Linked DNA regions of Homo sapiens: regions 1 and 2 are each linked to region 3. Evidence: fine-mapped expression QTL. A gene starts in region 3. Each other region holds a variant in brackets. All regions are shown on one strand. Distances are between the middles of the regions.

Region 1 (8,160 bases), 170 kb before region 3:
TTTTTATATGTAGGAATTTTCTGAGTATGGATTTCTTATCCAGAGCTCATGGTTCATTTGACACAGTTTTCAGCTCCTGGTCTATTTCCCCTTCCATTCTCTCCGCCACGCCCTGTGCCCTGAGGCCTGAGGCGCAGGACCCTCCCAGGGAAGGCCTAGGGGGCTTGGTGGGCCACCGCTCAGCTCAGGACCTGACAGCGTCACTCCCACCCTCACCACCACACACACAGGATGGGGGACTGCTGCTGCTTTCCAGCCTGTGAGCCTGGATAGGTATTTTGTGACCCAGCTCCTGCTCAGTCCCATCGCTGTCCCCGGTCTCTCCAGGGAGTAAGGGATTCTCCGTCTGTGGTAAGTTACCTGTGACTCTTCAGCAGTTTCCTCTGAGCATAATTATATCTGAGAGCACAGGGAGCTCCTCATTCCATGTATTTTTCAAATATTCAAGATGTACAACGTGATGATTTGCTATAGGTATTCATTGTGAAATGTTTGCCACAGTCAAGCTTGTTGACATACCCACCAGCTCACATTTACTGTTTTCGTGTGTGTGGTGAGAATACTCACAATCTACTCTCTGAGCAAACTGCAAATATATGTTATTAGTAACTGTAGTATCTGTGTTGTCCATTAGGCCTCTAGAACCTACTGTTACTCATGGAGGGTCTTCACTATGAGTTGTTCAGGTCCTTGGCATTTTGAACAAAGAATTGACCAAAACACACAGAGTAGCAGAGGAATGAAACGCGGGAGCGAAGCAGCGAAAGCAGAGATTTATTCAAGACAGAAAGCTCTGCAGGGTGGGAGCAGACCCAGCAAGGGCTCAAGGGTGTTAAGTTCCCTGTTTGAGGTTCTTATCTGCTACCCCTTATCTGGATGAAGGATTTGGTCCCTGGCTAATTAAAGGCTGAGGTGAATTGGCGCTCTACGCAGATGAAGGGATGGTCCCTGTGTTGGCTGCAGCTAATCCAGGGCACTCTCCCTTTCCATCTAAGACGTTATAGGGAGAGTAGCCTTTGATCTTTTGCTGCTTGGCTTGGGGAGATGGGGTTTTCTGTTTGGTTCCGCTTTCAGAAGTGTGTGTTAATTGGCCTCAGGTTCCCTGCCCCCAGACCCAGGTGTTTTCCTTTTGACCCAGCTTTGGGAAGGCAGCTCGAATTGGCCTTGGATTTCCTGCGCCCAGACCTTGCTGTTTTCTCAGACCTTGCTGTTGTCCCTGTCTCCAGACCCTGTTCTCCTGCCTCAGTACTTACCACAGAAAGTTTGTACCCTTTGACCAACACCTGTCACCTCACTGCCCCCACGCCCTGACTCTGGTATCCACCCTTCTACTCTGGATGGGTTTGACATCTTTAGATACCACATATTGTTACAGGAAAGGGGTCCTGATCCAGACCTCAAGAGAGGTTTGTTGGATCTCAAGCAAGAAAGAATTCACGGCCAGTCCACAGTGCAAAGTGAAAGCAAGTTTATTGAGAAAGTAAAGGAATAAAAGAACGACGACTCCATAGAGCAGCCCTGAGGGCTGCTGGTTGCCCATTTTGTGGTTATTTCTTGATGATATGCTAAATAAGGGGTGGATTATTCTTGCCTCCCCTTTTAGACCATATAGGATAACTTTCTGACCTTGCCATGGCATCTATAAACTGTCATGGCGCTGGTGGGAGTGTAGCAGTGAGGGTGACGAGAGGTCATTGTCGTCGCCATCTTGGTTTTGGTGGGTTTTGGCTGGCTCTTTTTTATTAGCCTGTTTTATCAGCAAGGTCTTTATGACCTGTATTTTGTGCTGACCTCCTATCTCATCCTGTGAGTTAGAATGCCTCACCGTCTGGGAATGCAACCCAGTAGGCTTTAGCCTTATTTTACCCAGCTCCTATTTAAGATGGAGTTGCCCTGGTTCACACACCTCTGACAATATGAGATCAGGCAGTATTTGTCTTTCTGTGCCTGGCTTCTTTCACTTACCATAACATCCTCCACATTCACCTATGTTGTTGCAAATGACAGGACTTCCTTCTCTTCTCAGGCGGGTTATTGGTCCATGGTATGTGTACCATATGCATTTTCTTTACCAGTTCATGTCAGCAGACACTTAGGTTGTTCCCATTTCTTGGCTATTGTGAATAATGCTGCAGTGAACACGGGAGTGTAGATATCCCTTCAAGATGGTGATTTTATTTCCTTTGAATATATGTATATACACCTGGAAGTGGGATTGCTGAATTGTATGGTCATTCTATTTTTAGTTTTTTTTGGAAACCTCCATGCTGTTTTCCGTAATGGCTGTAGTGATCTACATTCCACCAACAGTGTACAAGGGTACTGTTATTTTTTTTTTTAATTTTATTATTATTATACTTTAAGTTTTAGGGTACATGTGCACAATGTGCAGGTTTGTTACATATGTATACATGTGCCATGTTGGTGTGCTGTACCCATTAACTCGTCATTTAGCATTAGGTATATCTGCTAATGCTATCCCTCCCCCGCTCCCCCAACCCCACAACAGTCTCCGGAGTGTGATGTTCCCCTTCCTGTGTCCATGTGTTCTCACTGTTCAATTCCCACCTATGAGTGAGAACATGCAGCGTTTGGTTTTTTGTCCTTGCGATAGTTTGCTGAGAATGATGGTTTCCAGTTTCATCCATGTCCCTACAAAGGACATGAACTCATCATTTTTTATGGCTGCATAGTATTCCATGGTGTATATGTGCCACATTTTCTTAATCCAGTCTATCGTTGTTGGACATTTAGGTTGGTTCCAAGTCTTTGCTATTGTGAATAGTGCTGCTATAAACATATGTGTGCATGTGTCTTTATAGCAGCATGATTTATAATCCTTTGGGTATATACCCAGTAATGGGATGGCTGGGTCAAATGGTATTTCTAGTTCTAGATCCCTGAGGAATCACCACACTGACTTCCACAATGGTTGAACTAGTTTACAGTCCCACCAACAGTGTAAAAGTGTTCCTATTTCTCCACATCCTCTCCAGCACCTGTTGTTTCCTGACTTTTTAATGATCGCCATTCTAACTGGTGTGAGATGGTATCTCATTGTGGTTTTGATTTGCATTTCTCTGATGGCCAGTGATGATGAGCATTTTTTCATGTGATTTTTGGCTGCATAAATGTCTTCTTTTGAGAAGTGTCTGTTCATGTCGTTCACCCACTTTTTGATGGGGTTGTTTGTTTTTTTCTTGTAAATTTGTTTGAGTTCATTGTAGATTCTGGATATTAGCCCTTTGTCAGATGAGTAGGTTGCAAAAATTTTCTCGCATTCTGTAGGTTGCCTGTTCACTCTGATGGTACTTTCTTTTGCTGTGCAGAAGCTCTTTAGTTTAATTAGATCCCATTTGTCAATTTTGGCTTTTGTTGCCATTGCTTTTGGTAATTGAAGTCCTTGCCC[A/AT]TGCCTATGTCCTGAATGGTAATGCCTAGGTTTTCTTCTAGGATTTTTATGGTTTTAGGTCTAACATGTAAGTCTTTAATCCATCTTGAATTAATTTTTGTATGAGGTGTAAGGAAGGGATCCAGTTTCAGCTTTCTACATATGGCTAGCCAGTTTTCCCAGCACCATTTATTAAATAGGGAATCCTTTCCCCATTGCTTGTTTTTCTCAGGTTTGTCAAAGATCAGATGGTTGTAGATATGCGGCATTATTTCTGAGGGCTCTTTTCTGTTCCATTGATCTATATCTCTGTTTTGGTACCAGTACCATGCTGTTTTGGTTACTGTAGCCTTGTAGTATAGTTTGAAGTCAGGTAGTGTGATGCCTCCAGCTTTGTTCTTTTGGCTTAGGATTGACTTGGTGATGTGGGCTCTTTTTTGGTTCCATATGAACTTTAAAGTAGTTTTTTCCAATCTGTGAAGAAAGTCATTGGTAGCTTGATGGGGATGGCATTGAATCTATAAATTACCTTGGGCAGTATGGCCATTTTCACGATATTGATTCTTCCTACCCATGAGCATGGAATGTTCTTCCATTTGTTTGTATCTGTTCATTGAGCAGTGGTTTGTAGTTCTCCTTGAAGAGGTCCTTCACATCCCTTGTAAGTTGGATTCCTAGGTATTTTATTCTCTTTGAAGCAATTGTGAATGGGAGTTCACTCATGATTTGGCTCTCTGTTTGTCTGTTATTGGTGTATAAGAATGCTTGTGATTTTTGTACATTGATTTTGTATCCTGAGACTTTGCTGAAGTTCCTTATCAGTTTAAGGAGGTTTTGGGCTGAGACAATGGGGTTTTCTAGAGGTACAATCATGTCATCTGCAAACAGGGACAATTTGACTTCCTCTTTTCCTAATTGAATACCCTTTATTTCCTTCTCCTGCCTCATTGCCCTGGCCAGAACTTCCAACACTATGTTGAATAGGAGTGGTGAGAGAGGGCATCCCTGTCTTGTACCAGTTTTCAAAGGGAATGCTTCCAGTTTTTGCCCATTCAGTATGATATTGGCTGTGAGTGTGTCATAGATAGCTCTTATTATTTTGAGATAGGTCCTATCAATACCTAATTTATTGAGAGTTTTTAGCATGAAGGTTGTTGAATTTTGTCAAAGGCCTTTTCTGCATGTATTGAGATAATCATGTGGTTTTTGTCTTTGGTTCTGTTTATATGCTGGATTACATTCATTGATTTGCATATGTTGAACCAGCCTTGCATCCCAGGGATGAAGCCCAGTTGATCATGGTGGATAAGCTTTTTGTTGTGCTGCTGGATTCAGTTTGCCAGTATTTTATTGAGGATTTTTGCATCAATGTTCATCAAGGATATTGGTCTAAAATTCTCTTTTTTGGTTGTGTCTCTGTCAGGCTTTGGTATCAGGATGATGCTGGCCTCATAAAATGAGTTAGGGAGGATTCTCTCTTTTTCTATTGATTGGAATAGTTTCAGAAGGAATGGTACCAGCTCCTCCTTGTACCTCTGGTAGAATTCGGCTGTGAATTCATCTGGACCTGGACTTTTTTTGGTTGGTAAGCAATTGATTATTGCCACAATTTCAGAGCCTGTTATTGGTCTATTCATAGATTCAACTTCTTCCTGGTTTAGTCTTGGGAGGGTGTATGTGTCCAGGAATTTATCCATTTCTTCTAGATTTTCTAGTTTATTTGCGTAGAGGTGTTTGTAGTATTCTCTGATGGTAGTTTGTATTTCTGTGGGATCGGTGGTGATACCCCCTTTATCATTTTTTATTGCGTCTATTTGATTCTTCTCTCTTTTCTTCTTTATTAGTCTTGCTAGCGGTCTATCAATTTTGTTGATCTTTTCAAAAAACCAGCTCCTGGATTCATTGATTTTTTTGAAGGGTTTTTTGTGTTTCTATTTCCTTCATTTCTGCTCTGATTTTAGTTATTTCTTGCCTTCTGCTAGCTTTTGAATGTGTTTGCTCTTGCTTTCCTAGTTCTTTTAATTGTGACGTTAGGGTGTCAATTTTGGATCTTTCCTGCTTTCTCTTGTGGGCATTTAGTGCTATAAATTTCCCTCTACACACTGCTTTGAATGTGTCCCAGAGATTCTGGTATGTTGTGTCTTTGTTTTTGTTGGTTTCAAAGAACATCTTTATTTCTGCCTTCATTTCGTTATATACCCAGTAGTCATTCAGGAGCAGGTTGTTCAGTTTCCATGTAGTTGAGCGGTTTTGAGTGAGTTTCTTAATCCTGAGTTCTAGTTTGATTGCACTGTGGTCTGAGAGACAGTTTGTTATAATTTCTGTTCTTTTACGTTTGCTGAGGAGTGTTTTACTTCCAAGTATGTGGTCAATTTTGGAATAGGTGTGGTGTGGTGCTGAAAAAAATGTATATTCTGTTGATTTGGGGTAGAGAGTTCTGTAGATGTCTGTTAGATCTGCTTGGTGCAGAGCTGAGTTCAATTCCTGGGTATCCTTGTTAACTTTCTGTCTCATTGATCTGTCTAATGTTGACAATGGGGTGTTAAAGTCTCCCATTGTTATTGTGTGGGAGTGTAAGTCTCTTTGTAGGTCACTAAGGACTTGCTTTATGAATCTAGGTGCTCCTGTATTGGGTGCGTATATATTTAGGATAGTTAGCTCTTCTTGTTGAATTGATCCCTTTACCATTATATAATGGCCTTCTTTGTCTCTTTTGATCTTTCTTGGTTGAAAGTCTGTTTTATCAGAGACTAGGATTGCAACCCCTGCCTTTTTTTGTTTTCCATTTGCTTGGTAGATCTTCCTCCATCCCTTTATTTTGAGCCTATGTGTGTCTCTGCATGTGAGATGGGTTTCCTGAATACAGCACACTGATGGGTCTTGACTCCTTATCCAATTTGTCAGTCTGTGTCTTTTAATTGGAGCATTTAGCCCATTTACATTTAAAGTTAATATTGTTATGTGTGAATTTGGTCCTGTCATTATGATGTTAGCTGGTGATTTTGCTCGTTAGTTGATGCAGTTTCTTCCTAGCCTTGATGGTCTTTACATTTTGGTATGTTTTTGCAGTGGCTGGTACCAGTTGTTCCTTTCCATGTTTGGTGCTTCCTTCAGGAGCTCTTTTAGGCCAGGCCTGGTTGGTGACAAAATCTGTCAGCATTTGCTTGTCTGTAAAGTATTTTATTTCTCCTTCACTTATGAAGCTTAGTTTGGCTGGATATGAAATTCCGGGTTGAAAATTCTTTTCTTTAAGAATGTTGAATATCGGCCCCCACTCTCTTCTGGCTGGTAGAGTTTCTGCCGAGAGATCAGCTGTTAGTCTGATGAGCTTCCCTTTGTGGGTAACCCGACTTTTCTCTCTGGCTGCCCTTAACATTTTTTCCTTCATTTCAACTTTGGTGAATCCGACAATTATGTGTCTTGGAGTTGCTCTTCTCGAGGACTATCTTTGTGGCATTCTCTGTATCTCCTGAATCTGAATGTTGGCCTGCCTTGCTAGATTGGGGAAGTTCTCCTGGATAATATCCTGCAGAGTGTTTTCCAACTTGGTGCCATTCTTCCCGTCACTTTCAGGTACACCAATCAGACGTAGATTTGGTCTTTTCACATAGTCCCATATTTCTTGGAGGCTTTGTTCGTTTCTTTTTATTCTTTTTTCTCTAAACTTCCCTTCTCACTTCATTTCATTCATTTCGTCTTCCATCACTGATACCCTTTCTTCCAGTTGATCGCATCGGCTCCTGAGGCTTCTGCATTCTTCACGTAGTTCTTGAGCCTTGGCTTTCAGCTCCATCAGCTCCTTTAAGGACTTCTCTGCATTGGATATTCTAGGTAGCCATTCGTCTAATTTTTTTTCAAAGTTTTTAACTTCTTTGCCATTGGTTTGAATTTCCTCCTGTAGCTCAGAGTAGTTTGATCGTCTGAAGCCTTCTTCTCTCAACTCGTCAAAGTCATTCTCCGTCCAGCTTTGTTCTGTTGCTGGTGAGGAACTGCGTTCCTTTGGAGGAGGAGAGGTGCTCTGCTTTTTAGAGTTTCCAGTTTTTCTGCTCTATTTTTTCCCCATCTTTGTGGTTTTTGTCTACTTTTGGTCTTTGATGATGGTGACGTACAGATGGGTTTTTGGTGTGGATGTCCTTTCTGTTTGTTAGTTTTCCTTCTAACAGACAAGCATCGTGTTATATATAAAGTTTCGGTGCCACAAAAGAAATACCACTCGAATATTAAGATTTTCTTTTTAATTCTCAGCAAGGCAAGGTACTTCTAATTATTGTTGTTGACTAACTAAAATTGGTAATGGCTATCTAAATTTACTGTCCCCATTGTACTCTTTGAGACGGAGTCTCACTCTGTCACCCAGGCTGGAGTGCAGTGACTGATCTCGGCTCACTGCAAGCTCTGCCTCCCAGGTTCACACCATTCTCCTGCCTCAGCCTCCCAAGTAGCTGGGACTACAGGTGCCTGCCACCACGCCCGGCTAATTTTTTTTATTTTTAGTAGAGGCGGGGTTTCACTGTGTTAGCCAGGATGGTCTCAATCTCCTGACCTCATGATCCGCCTGCCTTGGCCTCCCAAAGTGCTGGGATTACAGGTGTGAGCCATTGCACCCAGCCCCAAGGCAAGATACTTCTATGTAGAAGGGTGCGCCCTTACAGATGGAGCAATGGTGGGCGCACACTTGGACAAGGGAGGAGAAAGGGTTCTTATCCCTGACGCACGTGGCCCCTGCGGCTGTGTCATTCCCCTATTGGCCAGGGTTAGACCGCACAGGCTAA
Region 2 (8,187 bases), 120 kb before region 3:
AAATGATGCTGGAACAACTGGCCATCCAAATGCGAAAAAAAAAAAAGAAATTGTCTTTAAAATGAAATATAGACACAGGTCTCTACTGTTCGCAAAAATCAACTCAAAATGCATCACAAACCTAAATCTGAAACACAAAACTATAAAGCTCCCAGAAAATAGTGTAAGCGAAAATCTAGATAACCTTGGGTTTAGTGATGACTCTTTAGATATGATACCAAAGACACAATCCATGAAAGAAAGAGTTGATAAGCTGGACTTCATTAAATGTAAACACTTTCATTCTGCAAAAGATGTGGTCAAGAGAATGAGAAGACAAGGCACAGACTGAAAAAAAATTTGCAAAAGACGTATCTGATAAAGAACTATTTTTCAAAATATGGAAAGGACTCTTTTAACAGTTCAACAATAAGAAAACAAATAAAAAAATGGGCCAAAGACCTTAACAGATGCCTCATGGAAAAAGATATGCAGATGGCAAATAAGCATATAAAAAGATGCTTTGCATCATACGTTGTTGGGAAAATGCAAATTAAAACAAAAATGAGATACCACTACACACCTGTTAGAATGGCCAGAATCTGTAACACTGACACCACCAAATGCTGGCAAGGATGTGGAACAACAGGAACTTTCATTCATTGCTGGAGGGAATGCAAAATGGTACAGCCACTTTGGAAGACAGTTTGCCATTTACAAACTAAACATACTCTTAAACCATATGATCCAGCAGCAATCACACACCTTGGTATTGATTCAAAGGAAATGAAAACTTATGTCCACAAAAAAGCCTGCACACAGATATTTGTAACAGCTTCATTCAGAATTGCCAAAACTTGGAAGGAATCACAATATCTTTCAGTGAGTGGATAACTGTGGTATACCCAGACAACGGAATATTATTTAGCACTAAAACGAAAGGATCAAGCCATGAAAAGATATGGAGGAAACTTACATGCCTATTACTAAGTAAAAGAAGCCAATCTGAAAAGGCTATGTACTGTGTGATTCCAATCATATGATATTCTGGGAAGGGCAAAACTATGGAGACAGTAAAAAGATCAGTGGTTGCCAGGGGATGGGAGGGAGGGAGAGCTGAACAGGTAGAGCACAGAAGATTTTTAGGGTAGTGAAAATACTCTGTATGATACTGTGATGGTAGCTGTATGTCATTACCCATTTGTACAATCCCACAGAATGCACAGCACCAAGACTGAACCCTAATGTAAACTACAGACTTTGATAATGACATGATGTAGGTGCATCAATTGTAACAAATGTACTGCTCTGGTGGGGGTTGTTGTTAATGGGGGAGGCTATGCCTGTGTCGGGGCAAGGGACATATGGGATATCTCTGTGTCTTCCTCTCAATTTTGCTGTGAACCTAAAACTACTCTAAAAAATGAAGTCTTTTAAAAAAGTGATTATGAAGACAAATAATTTTAAAACGGGCAAAGGATCTGAATAGACATATCTCCAAAGGAGGTATACAAATGGCCAACAAGCACATGAAAAGATGCCCAATATCATTAGTCATCAGGGAAATGCAAATCAAAACCACAGTGAGATGTCACTTTATGTCCACTGGATGGCTATAATAAAAGTCAGATAATAACAAGTGCCGGTGAGGATGTGGAGTAACAGAAAGCCCTGTACACTGCTGGCGGAAATAGAAAATGGTGCAGCCAGTGAGGCAGGTCCTCAACAAATTAAACATAGATTTGCCATTTGACCTGGGAATTCTACTCCTAGATATATATCCAAAAGAAACATGGACATATGTTCACACAAAAACTTGTAGACAAATGTTCACAGCAGTATTATTCACAATAGCCAAATGGTTGAAACAACCCAAATGTCCACTAAATAATGAATGAACAAAACGTGGCATATCCACACAATGGGATGTTAATTTGGCCATAAAAAGGAATGATGTACAGCTACATGCTACTACATGGATGAACCTTGAAAACATTATGCTAAGTGAAATAAGCCAATCACAAAATGCTACACATTTTATGATTCCATACATATGAAATGTTCAGAATAGACAAACATGGAGACAAAAGATTAGTGCCTGCTCAGGGCTGAAGGCTGGAGGGGGGCTTAGGGAAATGGGGGTGATAGCTAAATTGTACAGAGATTCATTTTGAGGTGATAAAAATGTCTTATAAGTGACTGTGGAAATGGTTGGACAACTTTGTTAATACACTAAAAACCACCAATTGCATGGCAAGTGAATTGTATCTCAATGAAGCTGTTACCAAAAAAAGTGATTACATTCAGCTTTATCCTTCTGGATACTATTGTCATAGAGTCTTGTCCTTGTTTATTATGTTCAGTCTTTGACTCCTTGACTCTTCTCTGTGTGTCCTTTTTACATAGAGAAAAGCCTGTGCAATCTCTGATTTTTCCTGTGTTTTTTTTTCTTTTTTTTTTTTTGGACATAGGGTCTCATTCTGTCACTCAGGCTGGAGTGCAGTGGTGTGATCTCAGCTCACTGCAGCCTCGATCTCCCAGGCTCAATTGAACTGCCTGCCTCAGCCTCCTGAGTAGCTAGGACTACAGGCGTGCAGCAGCACCACTCCCAGCTATCTATCTATCTATCTATCTTTTATTTTTTATTTTTTTTTGTAGAGACAGGTTTCACCAAGTTGCTCAGGCTGGCCTCAAACTCCTAGGCTCAGGTAATCACCCACCTTGGCCTCTCAAAAGTGCTGGGATTACAGGCATGAGCCACCATCCTGTTTTTGTTTCACTGGTATGAGTAACAGTTGTAGTGCCGAAGTTCATTATTAGGAGATGGTGGCAATATCAGCACACTAGTGTAGAGGCTAACAGCATGGACTTGGGAGCCAGACCATGGACCACCTCTACCGCTTACTAGCAGGTTCCACTTGGACAAATTATCTAATCTGTTTTAATTTCTGTATCTCAAAAAAGAAAACAATGAAGAGGTAATACATTCAAGGACCTTAGAAAAGTATCTAAACTAAGAAGTCCTCAAAAAAGAGCACTTTTCCTCTTTTATTTTTACTGGTGTGAGAGATGGTTGCAGAGCCAAAATTTCATTATTTTTTAAAAATCATGAAAATAGCAAAATAATCTCTTTCTCATATAACCTGTTTCCCATCTTTGTGAGTTCCTTTCACTATCCAACCCTTAACTGCTGATCTTCTAGGAGGTCTGATCTTCTTCCCAAGTAATCTCATCTACTTTCACTGGTTCAACAACTACCAATATGTATGTCATTCCACCAGGTGGTGTACATCTGATGTTGTCTATCTTATCTGACCACCTGCTTGACAACTCTATGTGGACATCCCATAGGTGCTCCAAACTCCTCTTCTTCCCCCAACTCTAATTCTTCACTGCAGTTGGTGGCACCATTATCCCATCCTGTCCCTCAAGACACAAATCTGGAAATAACTGACTTTTCCACCGACACTCATATTCCATCTATCTCCAGTTCCTGCCAATTTTCCCTCAGAACTCCGTTTCATCATTTTTTGCTCCACCTTGGGTGCATATCAGAATCATATGGGAGGCTTTGAAAGATCCCCACGATCAGGCCGAACTTCAATCCATTTAAATTAGGACCCTGGAAACTATAGATTTTTCAAGTTTCCCAAGTGATTCCAACATACAGCTGAGCTAGAGAATTTCTGACTTAGCCCTTGGCCTGCCTCTCAAGCCTCAACTTTTATAGTTCCTGGCT[C/T]TGTATTTCCATTCTGACGATACTGAAATGCTTATAATTACACTTCCCCACCATGCCATTTCTTGTCTTTATCATACACTCCACCATCCTACCCACCAAATCTGGCTTATTGCTACTTATCTTATGGACCTGGCAGTTGCTTCCTCCAGCAAGTCTCTCGTTCACCAATCTATGGCTGAATTTGGTATTCCTTCTCTGTAGTCCTTAAGTGCCTGGCAAATATCTATCACTGTGCTGAATATGCTGTTTTATAATTATCTGCATATGGGCCTAATCCCCTCAAAGAACTATGTACCACCTAAGACAATGGCCACTTGACACTCAGTTTTGTATCCCCAGCACCTGCTTAGCCTTATGTAAACACTTCATACATGTTAGTTGAATAAGTTTCCGGAGATGAGGAAAGGCTTTTTGGAAAGAGGTTGTTTGTGCTAGATGTTGACAGATGGACTGGATTTAGATCCATATCTTTCTTTCCACCCAAGGGCTTATACGACCACCAACATGATTAACTTTAACACTGCTTAACTTTGATACCTCCAAGCATTCACTGCTGTTTCTTTTACATAAACTCTTATTTTGTACTAAAAGTCTTACTCTACATTTGCAATGAGTATTAATTTGTAAGTTCCATCCAATCTTTTTAGAAAAAAGTTGCAGTAAAACTTATAAAAACACAAGTCTATTACCCTAGATTATGTTTTCCTTACTTTTGTGAGCAACAATGTATTAAAATCAAACTTTATTTCACTTTTGAGATACATATGATTATCTCCAATCAAATTATCTTCATCTTGACCACTTATACATTTATTTTGCCCCCTATGATATAAAACAATTTGCTGGCCTGTTCTCATGAGACTACATTAAGGAAAAAGAGACATTCCAAAGACATTTAATCATGACTAAATAAAAACAATTAAAAGTAAGTTTTAAAGAATGTTTCAAAAGAAATACACAATACAACTAATATAGTTTGTGTTCTTTTAATAAACACACTTGCATAGTTATATTACAATTTTGTAAAAATAAAAACAGATTATCTCATGCCAAGCGTGCCCAGCATTTGCACAATCTCAATACCTTTAATACTATAATTTTCAAGACACACAAAATAAAATTTTAAGGCAAAAACAGCACTTTGCAACAATTTAATAATTTATTACATTACAGTAGCATCACAGCAGCATTCAATAATGCCACTTTAGGCAAAAGTCTTTCAGTATTTCCATTATAGATTCTGTTTACAAGAATTCATAAACTGGTAAAAGTCATTCTAAGAAAACCTGGCAAATAAAGCTTTGGACTGGAATTGGTATTTCTTTCTCTACTTTTCTTTCCCCCAGTTTCTTTCTTTTAAACTACAGTATTTATATTTTAAAATGTTTTATTTCAAAACATTTAAATATCAGTTACATTTTTAATAGTTATATTATTTTAAAATGACTCTTTAAGATAAAGTTTTAGAGAAACTATATTATGGATAGGGCTGATTTACATTCTCAAATTTTCTAAAAATCAGCTTTGGTTTTAGAACTGATTTTTTTCATTTCTGGAAAACCTAAAAGGTTTAATCAAATAATTTAAAAGTGATTATTATACATTGCAATTGCAATCTTTAAACAGGTATTTTGATTCTTTACCTCCTACAGAAATTCAAATTTATTCAGTTGAACTCACATTTTAAAATTCTATGTTTCTGATGAACTCTAACCTTCTAATGTTGCCTTCTAAGCAAATTGAAAGCTGACTTATACTGAATGAGGAAGAGAACAAATACTTGGCTGAATGAGGTATTGCAAAAGACAGCATGCACTTTTAAGAAAGACTTAAGTTATTATGTCATATGATTTCCATTCTTTTTATCTTTTTCTTAAATACATGACAAAATACCTACACAAAGAGTGGTATTTCAGTTAATATAGTAAATTTATTTTCCAGACTGACATTCAGCTTAAATACGCCAGTATATGATTTAATCCATAGGTACCTGATGAACATATTATTTTCAGGTTGGTTACAGATGCTAAACGCTGTCTGAAGGTCATTCCCAGTAATTTATATTTATCAGTGTAAAAGTGAAGTGATTTGAACTATAAAAATACGTTTGAAATAATTCATCAATGTATTAGATAAACTCAGTTTCAGAATTATAAAGAAAAAACCTTAGACCAAATAATGTGGCTGATTAACAGTGGTATGATTTCTACCCCGAGGGTTTAAAAATGGATTTAAAGTAACTGTCTTTGAACTCAAAAGAATGCAAAAGCAGCAAGTTCAGAAAATAAAAGGCAAGAACAGGTAATTAATACAATTTGGGAGAGTCAGTTGAATTCACAAGGACCCAGTCTTTGCACTCTTTCAGTGAATGCAGGCAAATCTGTTATTCTATCTGTAAAATGAAATTATTGCTTTCCTATTAATGTCATATTTATAAAAGTATCATGAGGATGCCAAATGCTAAAAATAGAGGTGGTCTAGTAACTAGAAATTGCCACCCTAGGGAGCACACATACTTATCTCCCTACATCCTAATAATGTGATGTATTTTGGAACACAGACATTATAACTTTATGAAGTTTTAACTGTTGATTCTTTCCCAAGCATCATAAAGTTATGATTTAGGCAATGTATGACTGAAATAATTCATTCATAATGTATAGGCACATTAACATAAATATTGCACAAAATATGCCTCTAACTGAAACTGAGAGGTACAAAAACATATTTCACTCTTTGTAAATAACTTTGTGAGGAAATATGACTCTGTGATTGTATATACACTTTTCCTGATACTTTGACATTCACAAACAGTAGATTGCACTGCAGTTTGTAAACATTTTAAGTTGCATAAAATTCTCCTTGATTTTCAAATATAGTATAATACTGTCTACTAAAACTCCTTTTTGTATCAACTAAGTACTCTCACATATATTAGTTTATAATAATGTTTGTTATTATTTTTTAAAGTGTTTTCCATTCCAGGAAAAGAAGTAAATTCTTATGTCAAAGTAGCCAATATGGTTGAAGAACAGGTATTAGAGAAGTCTGATGGTAAAATCAATCTTAGAGCCTCAAAGAAGCTCCATGAACACAGAGGAATGCCAGGTGTTACACAGCTTTCCTTCACTCTAATTCATTCTTGACTAGAGCCCACATGTCTGTTTTGGGGACATTTAAACTCTTAAAGGATTTCTTATGATATTTACTAAATACATTAAGAAGAATGTCAACCAGTGCCCCTTTGTATACTGGGACATGTAGTCACCTGATTAAAACAGGTAACAATGAACTCTGACTTTAAAATGGATTAAGATATAAATGCTCTAAGCTAGGAAAGGTTTTTCCCATCTCACAGTCAATGATGGGAGCCTTTCATTCCTCAAAAATAATCCCTTTATAGGTCATCGAAAAAGAATACACACGCTGCAGCACATGATGCAGTACCTTCATTAGCCCAGAGCACATAAAGATCCTAAGCGAACTACCATAGGACAGTGCTCATTCTTGGGACTGGAACAAATGAAACACTGCACATACCTGCCAGAGCAGGCCACTTTCCTCTTCTCTGAGATTTAAAAAGCTCCCCCAAAATGTTGTTATTCCCATCCCAAATACACAGAAAACAGGGCATGGCTGTTTCCAGTTCTTGGCCTTTAAACAAATCTAAATGTCAGTACTCATAGTGGCATATTACAAAGTAATAAACAGTGCACACTTGAGGGCAAACCACATATTGAGCTAATTAAGAGCTCACTGTGATTAGGATTAGATCAAACATAATAGCAGAACATAAGCAAATTTTATCTGAATTCTGTAAATGAATACACATGTTGCAATAACATTAAAAAAGCATGGCAGCCTATTCCAAACCAGTAAGAATAGTTTGTGCAAATAGTGGGTCTTTGTGTGTTTGAACTCCCACCACATAAGGGCAAACTCAATATGCATGCTAATGACCTACAATTATCAAATTAAAAAAGAAGAAAAATGCTAAAGATGCCAGAGTGAACAGCAGGGAAAGCCACACAAAGACCCACTATCCTTTAACTTTTTACAAATAAATTTAAACTGTAAGTTAGAAACACAAAAAAATAATCACAAGTGGCTCTAACATTCAAACGAAGTAAACGAATTGTGTAGGAGATATTTGATCAGGGCTGCCTGCCCTGCCTCCACGCTAGAGTGAAACTTGGATAGTGGGTCTCTGGGGTGCTTTCACAACTGGAAGACAACATTGGGTCCTAAAAAAAGAAAATGAGGAATAAAATGAACATAATGCAAATTAGGTGGGTGAGATAAAATTTGACTAGTAACAACATGCAACATCAACTAAACAAATTTGAACTGTTAAAATTCTCTATCTTAAAAAAAGTTCTAATTATGTAACAAAATGAAAAATAATACTTAAAAGGGCCAAAGAAACACAAATGGTAATCTATAATTTAACTAGCTTTCATTGACTATTA
Region 3 (8,187 bases):
GAATAGGTGCAGCAAACCACCACGGTGCACGTATACCTATGTAACAAACCTGTACGTTCTGCACATATATCCTGTTTTTTTTGTAAGAAATAAAAAAAAATCGGCACACAAGAAAGTCTGCCTTTCTTCAAAAACAGTTTTTTCACAAATTTTTTCCATAAATAAAAAAGGTACTAAAAAAACTTGAATCCAAAAAAAGAAAAAGAAAATGCACCGTTAGATGGTAATAAATATATCACATTTTTGGTAATGTAACTCGTTTATTCTGAATCATTTCTGGAACTTGTTAATATAAATGTTTTACAAGTAAATACAATATGTAAAAATGCTACTTAATGGACTAATATGTACTTTCACTCATTCACTAAACACATATTTTTTACTGAATGCCCATATAACTTTTTTTTTCTTTTTTTTGTTTGAGACGGAGTCTCACTCTGTCGCCTAGGCTGGAGTGCAGTGGTGCGATCTCGGTTCACTGCAACCTCCGCCTCCCGGGTTCAACGATTCTCCTGCCTCAGCCTCCTGAGTACCTGGGACTACAGGCGCACGCCACCATGCCAGGCTAATTTTTTGTATTTTTTAGTAGAGACAGGATTTCACCTTATTGGTCAGTCTCAAACTCCTGACCTGGTGATCCGCCCTCCTCGGCCTCCCAAAGTGCTGGGATTACAGGCATGAGCCAGGGCACCCGGCACATAGATAACTCTTTTTTAAATGTATGAACCAAGATGACTCTACCAGATAAGGCACAGGTGCTGCAGTTAAAAGGATCTTGGTTTGAAACCTGGCTATTGTACTTACTAGCTCAGAGACCTAAAGTAGTCAAACTTCAGGTTAACATTTCACTTACCTTTTTGATGGGAAGATAATAATTACTCCTAGGGCCTTAGTGAGCTTTAAATGATTATGTAAAACACTTAGCATAGAGTCTAACATGCAGTTACGTGCTCGATAAATGACAACCATGGTAAACATATTTTATACTGAAGAAAGTATAGTTGAAGGAGACAGCCAATATGTGACCCTTTTGTCTTACTAAAGATGGAAATTTGTGAAACTCTACATTAAAACTAAAAATCCTAAGGTTACATGATTTTCTACTTTTTAAAAAAGATATACTAACTACATAAGGTTAAAGGATTTTTTAAAATAAGAAAGAAAAAAAGAAAAGCTTCTTGAAAGCTGCTGAGTTTGGGTGATGGGTACATGCTATTTTTGTGAAAATACAAATTTTTTAACACTATTAATCCAATCCCCAAAACATGCCTAACACACCTCCTCATATTCAGGAGAGATCAAGATTTTAGCCTTGAGATGTACCGAACAATGGTAACTCCCTGCTTAGTAATTCTGTACAGGTCAAGTTTTCTTGGACGAGTTTACCTTTCATTACAAAGGTGGGCACAGGGAATAGTTATCAATGCATGGAAGGGTGAAAAAATGCAAGCTTTTCAACTGCTTATTAATATTACATCAAAATAGCAGCAATGCACATTTTTTCCACGTTTTCAAAAACATAAAATACATCCACTTTATTTACTTTTGAAATTACAAGAGAGTCACAGGCACAGCCAAAAAAAGCTAAAGGAAAACACATCAGAGTTGTCAGTATCTTTAAATTTGGAAGGACGTCATTATTAATTCGCGTAAATGTTTTATGCGATGTTTCTAGGTAGCTTTTAGGTTTTATCACTGATTAACAATATAGCAAACCAGCACAGGGAGAGAGGCAATTTTTCGAAACGCTTAAGAAGCTTTAAACTACAAGAGCTATGCTACCTAAACTGAGCTCACTAACAACGTAAAATTTCAAGTCACACCTTGCCTATTTCTGAGTAAGCAAGCAAACACTAGTGAGACAAACTAGAAGCATGGAGCAAAGCAAGTCATTTCTATGCTAACCTTAATTCCTATCGTAAAGGGGTTGGCTCCATCAAAAAATATTCCTATTTCAGTATTAACACAAGTTTCAAATAAAGCACACTTGCCATTGGTAATTCTAGAGCGACAAGGCGCATAATTAATAAATCCAAACGGAGCATCTTTCTATAGAATACAAAGCCATCTGCAGTTTCAGCCTCGGTTTACCCACTCACTATGCATATGCAGACGTCTTTAAAAATAAATAAATAAATACACAAATAAACTTTATCTGGCCTGAGAGATTACATCTCTCGGTGCTTCCTGTATATTCTGGAAGTCAATAACGCTGAAGGTAAATTTAACATTTCCAACTCCGGAGGAACGCGAGCGGTAGACGCCAAGCATCCGCCCACTGTCCTCTCGTGACTCGGGCTACTTTGACGCACCGGGATGCGGCTCACCTGACATTCGGCACCAACCCTTGCCAGGAAGGAAAACCAACTCCGCGAAAATAAAATGGGTCCCCGAGGAGGCGTGCGGGTGCCCCCAGAGCTCTCTTCTGCTCACACCCCGAAAGCGAGGGGGCCACGCCACCCCCGACCCTCGCCGGCGTCCGCCACCTGCCAGACGAGGCCGCGGCCAGGGACCCGGGCTCGGCCGCAAGGAAGGGGCAGCCCAGCCCAGGCCCCCTCGGCGTCTGTCCCGGCCCGGCAGCAGAGGAAGGAACCCGGGGCCGGAGGTTTCCGCCCCGCACGGCCGAGCCCGCCAGGGGCCTAGCTCGGGGGCCGCCCGTACTCCCGAGGACCCGTCCCCATCGTGCGGAGCGCACAGCCGCCTCAGCCCGACCCGCAGAGCCTCCGGGCAGCGGGCGCGGCGCCCGCACCTGCCCCGCGCCTTGCTGCAGCCCCGCTAGCGGCTTCACCCACCTGGCGCCCTCGCCGCGCCTCCCGCTCGTCACAGCGCGACTCCGCGTCCCTCAGCACCGGCAGCCTGGGCGCGGGCAGGCGCGGGGAGACCCTGCTCTGCCGCCGTCGCCGCCACTGCAGCTGGCTTGGTCGTCAGGCCGCCGCCCGCGAACCTGTTGCGTAGCCTGTCACAGCCGCTCAGGGCTCCGCCGGCGCCGCCTCAGCCCCACAACAACATGGCGGCCGCGGCCTCCGCAGGAAGCCGGGGGGCGGGGAGGTAGGCGCCGGGCCGGGCAGCTGACGGCCCGCCCGCTGCCGGGCACCGACTCCCCACCCTCCGGAGCCCGAAACTGCCCGGGCGTGGCTCCTCGCCCCAGGAGTTCCGGGGCATTGAACCCTGAAGGTCTGCTCCGAGTCGGTCGGGTCCGAAGCGCTCCTCTCTGCCCTCGGGGAGGCCCCGAAGCCCCAGACCTGGCAGCCCTTCCTGGAGTTGCACAGACCCACCTGGCTCCTCCTCCCCGAGGTAACATGCTGAGCTTGGGTGGTGCTTTTCCTGCCACGGCAGACGCCGGGGTTTTGGAAAGTCCCAAGCAGTGCCTGCCACATCCCTGTTGCACCCACCACGGGGTTCTCCCTGGAACCTTCTCACTCGCCGAAGTTTTCTCCACTGATCTGGGGGAACGAATTCTCTGGGAATTGGGGGGTGGAAGGTGGGAAGGAGGTTGATCCCACCCTTGCCCATGGGTCTGTTACAGGCCTCTTGAACCCTTCTCAGGGACCTGGAGGACTTAACCATACCCTCGGTCATCCATTCACCATTCCTCGCCCTCCTCCATAACACACGCGGAGCGCCCACGAGGAGCACCCTCTACGCTAGTCACACTCCGCCGAGCAGTAGGAAGACTCTGTCCCCATAGAGCATAGCACGACGAAGCTAAACTTTCCTCCCCACCCCTCGCCAAGGGACAGGCGAAGCTCCTACTCAGAATTTGTCTCTTTTCTCCCCTCCCGGTTCCTGGTCTCCTCACAAAAGACCAGACTTCAACTCAAGCCGCCACCGTATCCCAAAACCCCAAAGGTTTGCCCTTGACAAGAAGCTTCTTCAAGGGGAAAGGCTTTCTTTTGATTGGGGTGAGGGAGGAGTTAGTGTTTCCTAATGAACGTAACCAAATGTCGGCCTGGCACAGTGGCTCACGCTTGTAACCCCGGCACTTTGGGAGGCCGAGGCAGGTGGATCATCTGAGGTCAGGAGTTGGAGACCAGCCTGGCCAACATGGTGAAACCCCGCCTCTTCTAACAATACAAAAATTAGCTGGGCGTGGTGGCGGGCGCCTGTAGTCCCAGCTACTCGGAAGGCTGAGGCAGGAGAATCGCTTGAACCTGGGAGGCGGAGGTTGCAGTGAGCAGAGATTGCACCACTGTACTCCAGCCTGGGCGACAAGAGCGAAACTCTGTCTCAAAAAAAAAAAAGTAACCAAATGTAAGACTCAAGATTTTTGGATATAAGACCCAAGATTTCTTTTTTTTTTTTTTTTTTTTTTTTTTTTTTTCCTGAGACAGACTCTCACTCCGTTGCCCAGGCTGGAGTGCAGTGGCGCAACTGTGAGATCTGTGCTCACTGCAACCTCCGCCTCCCAGGTTCAAGCAATTCTCCTGCCTCAGCCTTCCAAGTACCTGGGATTACAGGCACTTGCCACCACGCCCGGCTAATTTTTGTATTTTTAGTAGACACTGGTTTCACCATGTTGGCCAGGCTGGTCTCAAACTCCTGACCTCAGGTGATCCACCCGCCTCATCCTCCCAAAGTGCTGGGATTGGCGTGAGCCACCACGCCCGGCCAAGACCCAAGATTTATTTTGGCTTTTAGAAGCAGGGTGAGGGCTGGTCTGGGGTCCAAAACTCATATCCCTTGATTTGATCTGTGTAGATCAAATAACCCCTGGCATCCTTTCATTCCTTACCTGTTGAGGCAGGTGAAGGTGAGATGGCTCCAAACCCAGGCCTATCTGAACTGGCCAGCCAGCTTAGGAGGAATTTACCAAACATCGATGATGATAAACAGGCTTTTCCCGCTCTCACACTCAGTGTTTTTCCTAACTCTTCGATTAGAACCTGACCAAGACCTGACAGACAGGTCCTGAGCTTCAGTGACACAGAGAAGCCTGACTCTTTTATCAGTCTAGGAGGCCCCTCACTTGCTGGGGACCAGCCAATCTGTCCTTATCTGCAAACAAACCACCCAGGCCAAGGATAGCAATCTTGAGCACGTGGCCTCATTCCCATTGCACCCTTCACCAGTTAACTGATATGCTCTTTTGGAGCCCATATTTGAGAGTCAAAGCCCCAGAATCCTTCACAACATAGTGCTCCAGAGAGTTGGTCTGAGAGGTAAAACCTATTTTTTATTCCTGTTAGGCACATAGCTAGTCTTCATTTTTCTCCCATCCTTTGACCAATGTCATTTGTGTTTTCGGGTTCTAGACCTGGTGCAATTTACCCTGAGTCTCCTTTCCTTCTAAAGGAGGTGCCAAATCCTTGGCAGGACAAAAATGGAATTTGTAGAAAGAGATGCTTATAAAGGAATAAAAAAAAATTTAAAGCCCCCCTAAAATAAACCAAAAAACTAACAACCTCTGCTGGAAATCAGGGTCCTGAATGCATGCCTACAGTATCCCAAGTACTAAAACAACTGTATCCCAGAGTTCCCTTCAGAACTTTGAGGCCAGTTTGTCCATCCTGTCCTACTCTATCACAGCCCAAAATGCAAGCACCTCCAGTTATCTATCTTCTCTCTCACACATACCTCCCACCCTGTGTGATTCAGGGATAAATTTGGGCAATATTAAGCATTTGGTGGTTGGATATAAGGAATGAGAAGGAGTAAAGGGTTCTTGGGTTTTTGGGTAATGGTAGTTCTATTCAACAAGATAAAGAATGGAATACAGGAGGGAAGCACAGACCTTGGAAGTGGCTGAAGAAACATTTTCCTTGCTCCTCGACTGCATCCAGATCCTAGTTTTCCACTCACATGCAAAAGCCCCTTCTCCTATGAGGCTTATAACACTAGCTACACCCATCCTCTATCCTCATCCTTATCATTTACCATCTTCCAGGGCACTCAATATATTCCTCAAGAATTTCTGCACATGGAGCAGCCAGTACTCTCCGCCCAGGACCTTCATCATCCTTAGTGTCTTTCAGTGTTCATGATTCATTTAGATGATGCAGCCGCCATCCCAGTTCCTTGACTTCCTCTTCTCATAGGGCAGCCTTGGAAGTGTGTCTATACATTTCCTCCTTAGTATTCTCCAAATCCCAGCATCTTTTCTTTACTTCTGGCACCAGCTGGAAATCAAATACCTGGAGGAGCTAAGTCCTACCATGTTACATTTCTCTTCCTCTAGTTCTGCCACAGTCTAGGCAAGATTCTTAGACTTGTTCCTGGTGACCTAGCTTTTACCCTGGGAGCGTTTAGTCTCTATCTGTTTTCTTTTCCATGTATTATTGATCCTTCTCCTCAACCATATGTATCTTATGTTCTATCAATCTCCCCTTAAGTTAGTTTTCAAAGATTCCATCCTGTACCCCATTTCTACCATGTTTACCCCCAAAACAAACCTGCAGTGTAAGAAGAGTATAGAATAGGTAGAAGCAACAGTTCTAGAGTCCAGGCATCCCATAAGATAAATACCATTATCATATAGAGTAGAAAGACTGAGAACCTGGAGCTCATATTTCATGTTATAGTTTTACCTTCAAAACAATGCTGTAACTTTGGGGGTTTTTTATTTGTTTTTGTTTTGTTTTTTTTAGGATGGAGTTTCACTCTTGTTGCCTAGGCTGGAGTGCAATGGCGCGATCTCAGCTCTCTGCAACCTCCGCCTCCCAGGTTCAAGCGATTCTCCTGCCTCATCCTCCTGAGTAGCTGGGATTACAGGCTCCCACCACCAAGCCCAGCTAATTTTTTGTATTTTTAGTAGAGACAAGGTCTCACTATATTGGCCAGGCTGGTCTTGAACTCCTGACCTCAGGTGATCCACCCACCTCAGCCTCCCAAAGTGCTAGGATTACAGGCATGAGCCAAGTTTTAAATAAATAATTTATAAAGAAATTAATAGGTTACAGGCAACAAAAATAGTCTTGATTTATCCAGATATTTATTATTTTGGGCACTCTTCATTCTTTCCTGAGGATCCGAGTTTCCTATGATAATATTTCCCACCTGCCAAACAAACTAACCCTGAAAATGGATGGCACTGGAGGAGCAGAGGAAGGGAGAGGAAAGGGATTGAGCAGATGGCATCATTTCCCATTTTTCAACCCCCAACCCCAAGTTCCCATCCCTGCAGATGCTCTGCCCTGAGACTTGAAGCCTGGGGCACAGGCCTGGGTGGAGCCAATGCAGGCACAGATCTTGACATTCGTAGCAAATATTCAGATGGGAATTTTGAAGGCAGAAGTGGAGAAGAGTTCCACGTGAACAGCAGTAGGTATGAGTTATATATTTTTTAAATTAATAATTTTTAAAAGACCCTACCATGTTCTGGCCACTAGAAACAAGGACTTCGCAAGGAATGAGCACTGGTGAGGAGCAGTGGAGACTCAATTCACAAGAATGGTCAATGGGACAAATTTGGTCCTTGGATCTTTTCTTAGCTTCTTGACCTTACAGATCTCCTTCTGGAGTCCGGGGCAGAAGAAAAGCAGAGAAGTGGAAATAGGAGTGACTTCAGGGGAAAGAGGAGAGAAGGGAAATTCCCAGCCCTGGCATGGAAGGAAGGAGTGTTCTCATTATTGGGCCACTAATGTTGTGCATAACTTGAGACTCTGGCTTGAGGCCTGATGGTACCGGAAAGGCAGTACCAGGCAAACTGAAGGGGGAAGTTAGCCGAGACTTGGGCCTAGGCCAGCACTGCAGGGTGGAGTCAAAGGCCAGACTGGGCGAGGCCCTAAAGTCCCTGGACAGGACGTGTTCATTCATTACCAAAGCACCAGGGGCTTCCAGTCTGGCAGGTGTAGCTCAGCGAAAGGGAATCCAATCTGTGTTCAAGAGTCAGAAATGTTTCCTGTCTGGCAGATATGCCCAGCTGTCTGCTTATTTCATCGTTGCTGTCTGCAGCACAAACCTGGAGTGATACCAGTTCCCTTCTTATAATAACGTAACTAATATTAATGTAGCATTTTGCACTTGGCAGAGTACTTTTGTTATTTCATTTAATCCTTGTAACAATCCTGGGAATTAGGGTAAAGTGCTGTTTGGGATTGTCTCACTTTGGTTGGTATGAAGAAAGAGAGGTAAAATCAGGCTTTTGCCTTGTGTTTGGAGAATTTTCCTATGCCTAGTTGTGATTTTCTTTTCCTCATTTAAATAGAGAAACATAGGCCATGCTCTTCTGGGTTTAGATAGCAACAGTTT

Which allele goes with the higher level. Alleles are on the strand shown, and positions count from the first base shown. SD is a standard deviation of normalised expression in the study named. Not every link is listed here.
With allele T in place of C in region 2, the expression in stomach of the gene that starts at base 3,025 in region 3 is higher (moderate effect, 0.52 SD a copy in GTEx).

The links. PIP is the estimated chance that this variant, and not a neighbour inherited with it, causes the effect.
Region 1: its variant is the best candidate, but not a certain one, in a credible set for the expression of ITSN2 in whole blood (TOPMed, PIP 0.79).
Region 2: its variant is the best candidate, but not a certain one, in a credible set for the expression of ITSN2 in stomach (GTEx, PIP 0.58).

What each region holds. Positions count from the first base shown.
Region 1 is chr2:24,191,085-24,199,244 of GRCh38, forward strand. FAM228A (family with sequence similarity 228 member A) reads left to right here. Exons shown (of 6, transcript NM_001040710.3): 6 at 1-614. Among named protein-coding and RNA genes, the nearest start is that of FAM228A, 20 kb to the left of the region's middle. The variant A/AT (reference allele first, on the strand shown) is at 3,410.
Region 2 is chr2:24,234,245-24,242,431 of GRCh38, forward strand. All of the region lies in intron 29 of ITSN2 (intersectin 2), which reads right to left. Among named protein-coding and RNA genes, the nearest start is that of FAM228A, 63 kb to the left of the region's middle. The variant C/T (reference allele first, on the strand shown) is at 3,719.
Region 3 is chr2:24,357,512-24,365,698 of GRCh38, forward strand. ITSN2 (intersectin 2) reads right to left here and starts at 3,025. Exons shown (of 40, transcript NM_006277.3): 1 at 2,793-3,025. RefSeq lists silencers at 2,439-2,838, 2,849-2,898, 2,909-3,208 and an enhancer at 3,309-3,458.